Regions from separate parts of the Homo sapiens genome. Here all the other regions are linked to region 4. Evidence: fine-mapped expression QTL. A gene starts in region 4. Each other region holds a variant in brackets. All regions are shown on one strand. Distances are from middle to middle.

The links. PIP is the estimated chance that this variant, and not a neighbour inherited with it, causes the effect.
Region 1: its variant is fine-mapped to the expression of POLR3D in whole blood (TOPMed, PIP above 0.99).
Region 2: its variant is fine-mapped to the expression of POLR3D in whole blood (TOPMed, PIP above 0.99).
Region 3: its variant is fine-mapped to the expression of POLR3D in whole blood (TOPMed, PIP 0.99).

The regions. Positions count from the first base shown.
Region 1 is chr8:22,342,604-22,345,103 of GRCh38, reverse strand. All of the region lies in intron 20 of PIWIL2 (piwi like RNA-mediated gene silencing 2), which reads right to left. Among named protein-coding and RNA genes, the nearest start is that of SLC39A14, 23 kb to the left of the region's middle. The variant C/T (reference allele first, on the strand shown) is at 1,495.
Region 2 is chr8:22,289,670-22,292,169 of GRCh38, reverse strand. It overlaps PIWIL2 (piwi like RNA-mediated gene silencing 2), which reads right to left. Exons shown (of 23, transcript NM_018068.5): 9 at 2,243-2,323; 10 at 1,824-1,937. Among named protein-coding and RNA genes, the nearest start is that of PIWIL2, 16 kb to the right of the region's middle. RefSeq lists a silencer at 1-134 and an enhancer at 298-467. The variant T/C (reference allele first, on the strand shown) is at 998.
Region 3 is chr8:22,276,079-22,278,838 of GRCh38, reverse strand. The region is part of intron 1 of PIWIL2 (piwi like RNA-mediated gene silencing 2); the gene reads right to left. Among named protein-coding and RNA genes, the nearest start is that of PIWIL2, 2.1 kb to the right of the region's middle. RefSeq lists an enhancer at 2,598-2,760. The variant A/G (reference allele first, on the strand shown) is at 1,526.
Region 4 is chr8:22,243,989-22,246,748 of GRCh38, reverse strand. It overlaps POLR3D (RNA polymerase III subunit D), which reads right to left and starts at 1,616. Exons shown (of 9, transcript NM_001722.3): 1 at 1,566-1,616; 2 at 1,135-1,304. The coding sequence starts at 1,299. MIR320A (microRNA 320a) reads left to right here and starts at 1,712; the gene lies at 1,712-1,783. RefSeq lists enhancers at 343-512, 1,637-1,706, 1,174-1,841 and a silencer at 1,147-1,326.

The sequences.
Region 1 (2,500 bases), 98 kb before region 4:
CGGGTTCAAGTGACTCTTCCACCTTATCTTTAAGAGTAGCTGGGACCACAGGCTTGCACCTCTAAGCCCGGCATGCTTAACTTTTTAAGGAACTGCCCAACTGTTTTCCAAAGTAGCTGCATTATTTTATTTTACAATCCCATTAGCAATCTATGAAGTTTCCAATTTCTCCATGTCCTGGACAAGACTTTTATTACTTGTCTTTTAAATTTTATTTTAATCTTTTCTTTAAAAGGGTCTTACTCTGTCACCAAGGCTGGAGTGCAGCGGCACAATCACGGCTCACTGCAGCCTTGACCTCCCAGGCTCAAGTCATCTTCCCACTTCAGCCTCTTGAGTAGCTGGGACCACAGATGTGTACCATCATGACCAGATAATTTATTTTCATTTTTTATTTTTGTAGAGATAGGGGTCTCCCTATGTGGCCCAGGCAGTCTCAAACTCCTGGGCTCAAGCAATCCTCCCACCTTGACCTCACAAAGAGCTGGGATTACAGGCATGAGCCATCATACCTGGCCTCTTTTAAATTTTAGATATCCTCGTGCATACGATATGGTACCTCATTGTGTGTCTGTATGTTTTTAAATTAAGAGACTATTTTTTAGAGGAATCTTCAAGTTTACAAAAAAACCTGAGGCAATAGAACAGAGTTCCCATATGCCCTCCTCCCACCTCCTATCCCCACCCATAAACAGTTTCCCCTTTTGTTATCATATTGCATTATGGTACACTTGTTACAACTGATGACCAAATGTTGATACATTAACTATACTCCACAGTTTACATATTTGTGTTGTACAGTTCTATGGGTTTTGACAAATGCATAATGTTATCTAGTTTCAGTGCCCTAAAAATCCTGTGTGCCACCTATTCCTTTCTCCCCCTTCCAAACCCTTGACAGCCACTTTTTACTGTCACCACATTTATGCATTCTCTAGAATGCCATTTATCATACAGTTAGAATCATATAAAGCCTTTTCAGATTACCATCTTTCACTGAGCAATATGTATTTAAGATTCCTCCATGTCTTTTCATGGCTTAATGGCTTATTTCTTTTAACACAATATTCCATTGTCTGGATGCATGACAGTTTATCCACTCACCTACTGAAGGACATCTCTGTTTCCAAGTTCTGGCAGTAATGAATAAAGTTGCTACAAACATTCACGTGCAAGTTTTTGTGTGGGCGTAAGTTTTCAACTTATTTGGGAAAATATCAAGGAGCGTGATTGTTGGTATGTGTATGTAAGTGCACATTTAGTTTAGTAATTAGCTGCCAAACTGTTTTGCAAAGTGGTTGTACCATTTCCATTCTCACCAGCCGTGAGTGAGCGTTCCTATGGCTCTACACCCTCACCAGCATTTGGCATTACCAGTTTTTGAATTCTGATCATTTATAGGTGTGTAGTGGTATCTGATTGTTTTAATTTGCAGTTCCCTAAGGGCAAGTGATATTGAACACCTGCTTGTATGCTAATTTGCCATCTATCTAT[C/T]TACCTATTTTTGAGACGGAGTCTCGCTCTGTCACCCAGGCTGAAGTGCAGTGGTACAATCTCAGCTCACTGCAACCTCTGCCTCCTTGGTTCAAGCAGTTCTCCTGCCTCAGCCTCCTGAGTAGCTAGGATTACAGGCATGCGCCACCATGCCCAGCTAATTTTTTTTTTTTTGAGATGGAGTTTCGCTCTTGCTGCCCAGGCTGGAGTGCAATGGCACAATCTCGGCTCACTGCAGCCTCTGCCTCCCAAGTTCAAATGATTCTCCTGCCTCAGCCTTCCCGAGTAGCTGCGATTACAGGCATGCGCCACCAGGATTACAGGATTACAGTCATGCGCCACCACACCCGGCTAATTTTGTATTTTTAGTAGAGACGGGGTTTCTCCATGTTGGTCAGGTTGGTCTTGAACTCCCTACCTCAGGTGATCAGCCCACCTCGGCCCCTCCCAAAGTGCTGGGATTACAGGTGTGAGCCACTGCGCCTGGCCTAAGTTTTGTATTTTTAGTAGAGACGGGGTTTCACCACATTGGTCAGGCTGGTCTCAAACTCCTGGCCTCATGATCTGCCCGCTTTGGCCTCCCAGAGTGCTGGGATTACAGATGTGAGCCACCACACCCGGCCTTATCTACCTATACTCTTTGGTGAGATGTCTGTTGAGGTATTTTGCTCATTTTCTAATTGGGTTGTTCATTTTCTTACTGTTGAGTTTTAAGAGTTCTTTGTATACTTTATAACAGTCCTTTATCAGATACGTGTTTTGCAAATATTTCTTCCTAATCATGGCTTGTTGTTTCATCCTCTTATCAGTGTTTCCCAGAAGTTTTTAAATTCGATGAATTTTCGATGAAAAATTTATCAATTTTTCCTTTCATGGGCTTTTGGCATCATATCTAAAAAGTAATCACCAAACCCAAAGCCACCTAGATTTTCTATGTTATCTTCTGTAAGTTTTAGAGTTTTGCATTTTAAACATAGGTCTATAATTTGTTTTAATTTTTGCAAAA
Region 2 (2,500 bases), 46 kb before region 4:
CATTTGCTCTGCCCCTCCATCACCCTGCTTGCTCACTCGGCTCTAGCCACCCTGCATGTGCCTGCACCAGGCCTGTTTCTGTCTTAAGGTCTGTGCCTGAGCTGTCCACATGCCAAAAGCTTCTTCTCCCTTCACCTGGCTAACCTCTTACCTCTTTCAAGCGTTTGCTCAAATGAGCTTGACCACTCCACTTAAAACTGCAATTCTCCGCCCCCTGCCCCACTACTTCTGATTGCCCTGACCGTGTGCTCTTTTTCTTTTTTCCATGGCTCTTATCGCTTTTATTACACTATACAATTTATTTATTACATTTATTATTTACTGTTCATCTCCCCTGGTAACAACAGAGGCTCTGTGAGGGGAGGGATCTTTGTTTTGCTATCTGATAGGTCCTAAGACTCTGGTTCATAACTGGAGCTCAGTAAGTATACACTGAAGCAATGAATGAAATGGTCAGAGGAGCAAAGATTTACAAGCCCGATAACACCCAGTGGTTGTACATAGCTGGTGGGAAAAGAAACTGAATAAATCTTCTACAGGGTAATTTGTCAAGATACAGTTAACTATCATATTATATTAGATATATATTAAAAGGATTTAGAATGTTCAGCCCTTCCATTAAGTAATTCTACTTCCAAGTACATGGCCTAAAAAAATCAGATGTACAGACTTATGTGTAAGATGAGATTTCATGCAACCACTAAAAATTATACACATCTGGCTGGGCACGGTGGCTTGTGCCTGTAATCCCAGCACTTTGGGAGGCTGAGGCGGGCAGATCTCCTGAGCTCAGGAGTTCAAGACGAGCCTGGGAAACATGGTGAAACCCTATCTCTACTAAAATACAAAAAATTAGCCAGACATGGAGGCATGCACCTGTGGTCCTGGCTACTCGGGAGGCTGAAGCAAGAGAATTGTTTCAACCCAGGAGGCAGAGGTTGCAGTGAGTTGAGATCACACTACTGCACTTCAGCCTAAGCAACAGAGAGAGACTCTC[T/C]CTCAGAAAAAAAAAAAGAAAAGAAAAGAAAAAAAAATTAGCCGGACATGGTGGCGGGCGCCTATAATTCCAGCTACTCAGGAGGCTGAGGCAGGAGAATCACTTGAACCCAAGAGGTAGAGGGTGCAGTGAGCCAAGATTGCACCACTGCACTCCAGCCTGGGTGATAGAGTGAGACTCTGTCTCAATTAAAAAAAATATATATACACATCTGTATTTACTACAGTAACACATACATTGTATATTATTATATGCAAACTCAGCATGCGCATATATCAAACCAAGTTCTCCTAACCACAAATTTAAACAAAACTCCTTCTCAAAGCACAGCAGATGTCTATTCAGATGCTTATCTCAGGAGGACTAGAGACGAGGGCACATATATTCAGTTCAGTTATTCTACAACTAAAAATCTAAACAGGGCTGGGTGCCATGACTCATGCCTATAATCTCAACACCTTGAGAGGCTGAGGTAGGAGGATCCCTTGAAGCCAGGAAACATAGCAGGCTGGGAAACATAGCAAGACCCTATCTCTACAAAAAAAAAAAAAAAAAAAAATTAAAAATTGGCTGGGCATGGTAGCACACCCGTAGTCCTGGCTACTCAGAAGGCTGAGGTGGTAGGATCACTTGAACCCAGGAGTTCAGGGTTACAGCGAGCTATGATCAAACCACTGTACTCCAGCCAGGGTGACAAAACAAGACCCTGTCTCTGGGGGAAAAAACAAACAAACAGAACAATGTCTAATGTGTGTTATTACCAGCTGTTACTGAACTTTTCAGAAAATCATCAGCATGTTAAAGATAGACCCCACCATTCACTCACATGACATCCAGCACACAGTCATTCCGAATGACCTTATGGGAGACATCAGCTAGCAGGAAGAGCCCTCCATCTGTCCTTCGGATGCTAGCTGCATAGCCTGGCCAGATCTGCAATCTGGAGAGAGAGGTGGTCTCAACTGTAGGATTTTCAAAGAACACATATACTTCCATGCCCCCATGTGAACAAAACATTGAGGTGATACTGCCCTTCCCTAATAGTAATGAGAAAGCCTCAAGAAACTAAGTTAATTGACATTATTGCAAACTTACTGAAAAACCAAACTAAGGAAGAGATTTAATTGATAAACTGTATTCACTACCATAAACTACTGCTGACATTATAGTACTAAATACAATGGTTGTAATGGAAACTTTCTTTCCAGAACATTCAAAAGTGAGGGAAGGGAAAAAAGTACCAACCTGTGTTGCTGTAGTACCATAGCACTTGTAGGGTCATAAAAGTTTCTCCCCACAAGCTTCATATCTAAAAGTTTCATTACCCTGAAATAAAAAGCAAGTATGAGTTTTCTAATAGAAGAGTAATAAAATTATGTTCCATTATTCTTAGCTACATTTGCCTTTGGAAGTCTGAACGGTTAGAAATGTTTGTGCTCTTTGCAGAAGACAGCTTTTATATTGAGAACAATCTTGTTAAAAGAAAACCAAAAACTGCCAAAG
Region 3 (2,760 bases), 32 kb before region 4:
CGAAGTTCACAAGAGGGTTTGCACAATGAGAATCTAATGCCACCAGTGATCCGACAGGAGGCAGAGCTCAGGTGATACTACAAGCCATGGGGAGCAGCTGTCAATACAGATGAAGCTTTGCTCATTTGCCAATCTCTCACCTCCTGCTGTGCAGCCCAGTTCCTAACAGGCCCCCCAACCAGCCTGTGGCCTGGGGGTTGGGAACCCCTGCCTTAGAGGCCCGTGTCCTCCTTGAACTTACTTATATTTTCTACCCAAATAGCCTCTCACAAAACTCAGTCCTGTGAGTTAACTAGCTGTTGTATAAGGAAGCAGTTTTTTAGGAGGGTCTCCTTCTGTCGCCCAGGCTGGAGTGCAGTGGCATGATCATGGCTCACTGCAGCCTTGACCTCCTGGGCTCAAGTGACCCTCACATCTCAGTCTCCTGAGTAGCTGGGACTACAGGCATGCACCACAACACCCAGCTAATTTGTACATTTTTTGTACAGACGGGGTCTTGCCACGTTGCCAAGGCTGGTCTCAAACACCTGGGCTCAAGAGATCTGCTGCCTCAGCATCCCAAAATGCTGGGATAATAGGTGTGAGCCACTGCACCTGGCTAAGGCAGTTTTTATGTATGAGGATGACTTTGGTTTATAAACAATTTCTTTTCCTCCCCCCCTTTTTTTTTTAGACGGAGTTTCACTCTTATTGCCAAGGCTGGAGTGCAATGGTGCAATCTTGGCTCACCGCAACCTCTGCCTCCTGGGTTCAAGTGATTCTCCTGCCTCAGCGTCCCGAGTAGCTGGGATTACAGGCATGCAGCACCATGCTCGGCTAATTTTGTATTTTTAATAGAGACGGGGTTTCTCTATGTTGGTCAGGCTGGTCTCGAACTCCCGACCTCAGGCGATCAGCCCACCTGGGCCTCCCAAAGTGCTGGGATTACAGGTGTGAGCCACTGTGCCTGGCCTATAAACAATTTCATAGTTAACACAGCCATATCATAAAATTATTGTCAACAAATATTTATGGGTTTTTGCTTTGTTTTTGGCCTCTCTTTCCTACATAAGAGTCCTAACTTTTTTCCAGTCTATGATTGCACCAAATTCTCTTCCTTGATCTGTTTAGCTGCTTCTCCGAATCTCTATCCAATTCTTTTTTACAAAATTCTTCCTTCAGGCTGAGCACACACACACAGTGGTTCATGCCTGTAATCCCAGCACTCTGGGAGGCCCAGGTGGGAGGACCATTGAGGCCAGGAGTTTGAGGCCAGTCTTAGGAACACAACGAGACCCTGTCTCTACAAATAATTAAAAAATAGAAAAAAAAATTTTAAAAACTCTCTTCTTTCAAACTCCATCAGAAGTCTCCAGAGTACACAGTCTTTCTGCTTTGAGCCTACAATACTTGCTCAGTCTCACAGGTTGCATTTAACACCCTTCTCTCTCCCAGGTTACCCGGGGTGAGGCTCTCCCTGGCTTCCCTACCAAATCTAAAGCCCATCAGGTCTCTTCAAAATCACTTCATAACCTGTAGGTCGGGC[A/G]TGGTGGCCCATGCCTGTAATCACAGCACTTTGGGAGGCCGAGGCGGGTGGATCACTTGAGATCAGGAGCTCAAGAGCAGCGTGGCAAACATGATGAAACCCTGTCTTTACTAAAAATACAAAAATTAGCCAGGCATGGTGGTGCATGCCTGTAATCCCCCCTCCTCAGGAGTCTGAGGCACAAGAATTGCTTGAACCCAGGAGGCGGAGGTTGCAGTGAGTCAAGATCGTGGCACTCCAGCCTGGGTGACAGCACAAGATTCTGTCTCAAAAAAAAAAATATATATATATATATCACTTTATAACCTACAGATTTCAAGACTCCCTCTTTAAGGGGCTCCTCTCATTGTCCTGACTTGCCCCTGATTCCTGAAAAATATTTCTTAACGGAAAAGAATTTTTTTTTTTTAAGAGACAGGGTCTTGTTCTGTCATCCAGGCTACAGTGAAGTGGTGGCATCTTAGCTCACTGCAGTCTCAACCTCCTGTGCTCAAGCAGTCCTCTTGTCTCAGCCTCCCAAGTAGCTAGGACTTCAGGCACCTGCCACCATACCCAGCTAATTTTTAAAAAAAATTTGTAGAGACGGGATCTTGCCATGTTGCCCAGGCTGGTCTCAAACTGCTGACCTCAAGTGATCCTCTCACCTCAGACTCCCCAAATGCTGGGAGAAGCCTCTTCTTAACTTTCAAAAAGCTGTCTTGGCCGGGGGTGGTGGCTCGCGCCTGTAATCCCAGCACTCTGGAAGGCCAAGGTGGGCAGATCACAAGGTCAGGGGTTCGAGACCAGCCTGACCAAAATGGTGAACCCTCATCTCTACTAAAAATACAAAAATTAGCTGGGCATGGTGGCCTGCGCCTGTAATCCCAGCTACTCGGGAGGCAGAGGCAGGAGAATCGCTTGAACCTGGGAGGCGGAGGTTGCAGTGAGCAGAGATCACGCCACTGCACTCCAGCCTGCGCTACGGAGCGAGACTCCGTCTCAAAACAAACAAACAAACAAACAAAAAAGCTGTCTTAAGTATTAGCTACAGAGAAATCATACATTTAAAGAAAATATTAACACACAATTCATAAACCCACAGCGTAAGTGCAGACAGTTCAGGAACTTGCAAAATTTATTGAACTAAACTATCCTCTTTCACACTCTAAACGCAGGATATGACTCCCTTTCTTGAAGGCTATATTTAACTGCTAACACCCCTTTTCGGTGAGCCAGGACTCTGCTCACACCTCCCC
Region 4 (2,760 bases):
TTTATGGCTGGGCGTTGTGGCTCATGCCTGTAATCCCAGCACTTTGGGAGGCCAAGGTGGGTGGATCACGAGGTCAGGAGTTCAAGATCAGCCTGGCCAAGATGGTGAAACCCGTCTCTACTAAAAACTACAAAAAGTAGCTGGGCGCGGTGGCGGGCCCCTGTAATCCCAGCTACTCGGGAGGCTGAGGCAGGAGAATCGCTTGAACCCGGGAGGCGGAGGTTGCAGTGAGCTGAGATGGTGCCTCTGCACTCCAGCCTGGGCGACAGAAAGAGATTCCCTTAAAAACAAAACAAAAAACCAAAAAACCGCTTTATTCGGCCAGGAGCGGTGGCTCACACCTGTAATCCCAGCACCTTGGGAGGTCGAGGCAGGCGGGCGGATCACGAGGTCAGGGGTTCAAGAACAGCCTGGCCAACATGGCAAAACCCTGTGTCTACTAAAAATACAAAAATCAGCTGGGCATGGTGGCGGGCGCCTGTAATCCCAGCTACTCAGGAGGATGAGGCAGGAGAATCGCTCAAACCTGGGAGGCAGAGGTTGCAGTGAGCTGAGATCGTGCCATTGCACTCCAGCCTGGGGGACAACGGCGAGACTTCCTCTCAAAAAAAACCAAAACCAAAACCAAAACCTGCTTTGTTCTTCTGTCATCCTGACCCCACCCCTTTCTGGGCTACTCTTGACATCCACAGTCATATACACATGGGAGAGGCCACAGAGCCTCGAATGCCATACCTAGGATTCATCATACTCTAGATAAAAAGTTTGCACACAGAGATGGTGAATTCTGAACCCTCTAAGACTGCGAAGTTTATGCCTGTCTGGCTTTCATGGGTTTCTTAAAGATGTCCAAACACACAATAAAAGTAAATAAACACTGTTCAAATTGCTTTTGAACGACTTTAACTTATTAGGATTCTCTGCCCTTCAACCACCTCTGGGAGTCATTTCAACATCTTGTACTCAGTACCTAGATTTGAAGGTAGGACAGACTCCCTAGAATTTAAAGAGGGGTAGGCTTGAGAGGCCCAACGACAGTCCTGACACACAGTAGGTCCTACACAAACATTAGTTGAATCCTGGGGCTTGGAATTCAAGGTAGTTGAGTTTCTTTAGAAACGCGCCGTTGGGTACCTTCTTGACTCCCCCGAGGGTGAGGTCCCTGGAACGGATGGAGGGAAGGCGGCCGGGGGTGAGGGGAGGCGCCGGCCGCCGCCCGATGAGCCCCCGGGCCCCAGTCAGGAGAGGTCGGGGCCCTCCCGGCGTGCTGGGCTCGCCGGCGGCGTTTCCTTCCGACATGTTGCCTGGGAGAGAAGGGGCGACGAGATCACCAGAGGGGACTGACACGCGGACCCTGGCGGAACCCCACCCCCTTGCTTTCCGGTCCCCCAGTCGGTGCGTCCCTCCAGTGGCCTCTCAGCTCCTCCCCTCCCACGTGGCGAGACTCCCGGGACCACCCAGGTGAGAGCCTTTGGCTCGCGACACGCCCTCTCCAGGAACCCCGCCCAGGAACCAGACAGGGACGCACCCGGGCCGCGGCTCCACACCGCGCGTCACAACCTCACCTGCAACGCGACCAGCCGCCAGCCTTCGGTCTCCGCGCCGGGCGGAAGTCTGCGTGGCAGGGCCTGGGCGCCGCCATCTTGGCGCGGGGCGGAAGTGACGTTAGGGGGGCGGGACTGGGCCACAGTATTTATCAGGCGGCGCTTCGCTCCCCTCCGCCTTCTCTTCCCGGTTCTTCCCGGAGTCGGGAAAAGCTGGGTTGAGAGGGCGAAAAAGGATGAGGTGACTGGTCTGGGCTACGCTATGCTGCGGCGCTCGGGGGTCTTGGCCTCCGGGCGGTGGCGTGGAGGCGCCAAGATCAGGGTCCCGGGTTTTGTCGGCCACCACGCCGCAATGTGAGGATTCGCCTCGGCGGAGCCCCTGGGAGCTTCGGGGTAGCTGCTCGGGATGGGGCGAGGGGCGCGGCGCGGCGCAGAGAGTGAGACCTGGACTTAAGAGTCGGGGAGTCCTGGGCCACACCGAGCCCTGTCTGCGGGTTCTCCATGGTGACCTTGGAGTGGTCATTACCTCCGGGCAGCGACCTCGCCCACTTTCGGGGACCCCTTCCCTGTGCTCCTGGTGGAGTCCTGGGGTGAGGCTGTGGGGGCAGCTTGGAACAGCCGCAGTGGACCAACCGGTGCCCAGTCATACCCGCTTCTGATCACGAAGGCGGTGGCCCTCGTGTGCGCTCTTGGTCAAAGCCTGGAGGGAATTGGAATACCAAGTTTGCTCTACTGCTGGAGGAATTTAAAGAACTTTTGTTGACTCCAGCGTTTGTGATTTAACATAAAAGGTGTCATTTAATGTTATCCCCCATCCCCCAGACCGTATAAAAACCATGTAACAATATTATGGGGAGTTTGAGGAAAGGAAATCATTTCTACCAGAATGCCACGTAGAGTACTACTATTAAAAATTTTGTAATGTATCTAGTAGTCTTCACAGAGTTGTCGTATCACAATTTCGTGTCCTTTTTCTTTTCTTTTCTTTCTTTTTTTTTTTTTTGAGACGAGGTTTCTCTCTGTTGCCCAGACGGGAGTGCAGTGGTGCGATCAACACACCGCAACCTCTGCCTCCCAGGCTCAAGCCATGCTTCCACCTCAGCCTCCTGAGTAGCTGGGACTACAAGTGCATGCCACCACGCCCGGCTAATTTTTTCTTTTTCTTTTTTTTTTTTTTTTTTTTTTTGTATTTTTCGTAGAGACGGGGTTTCACTAT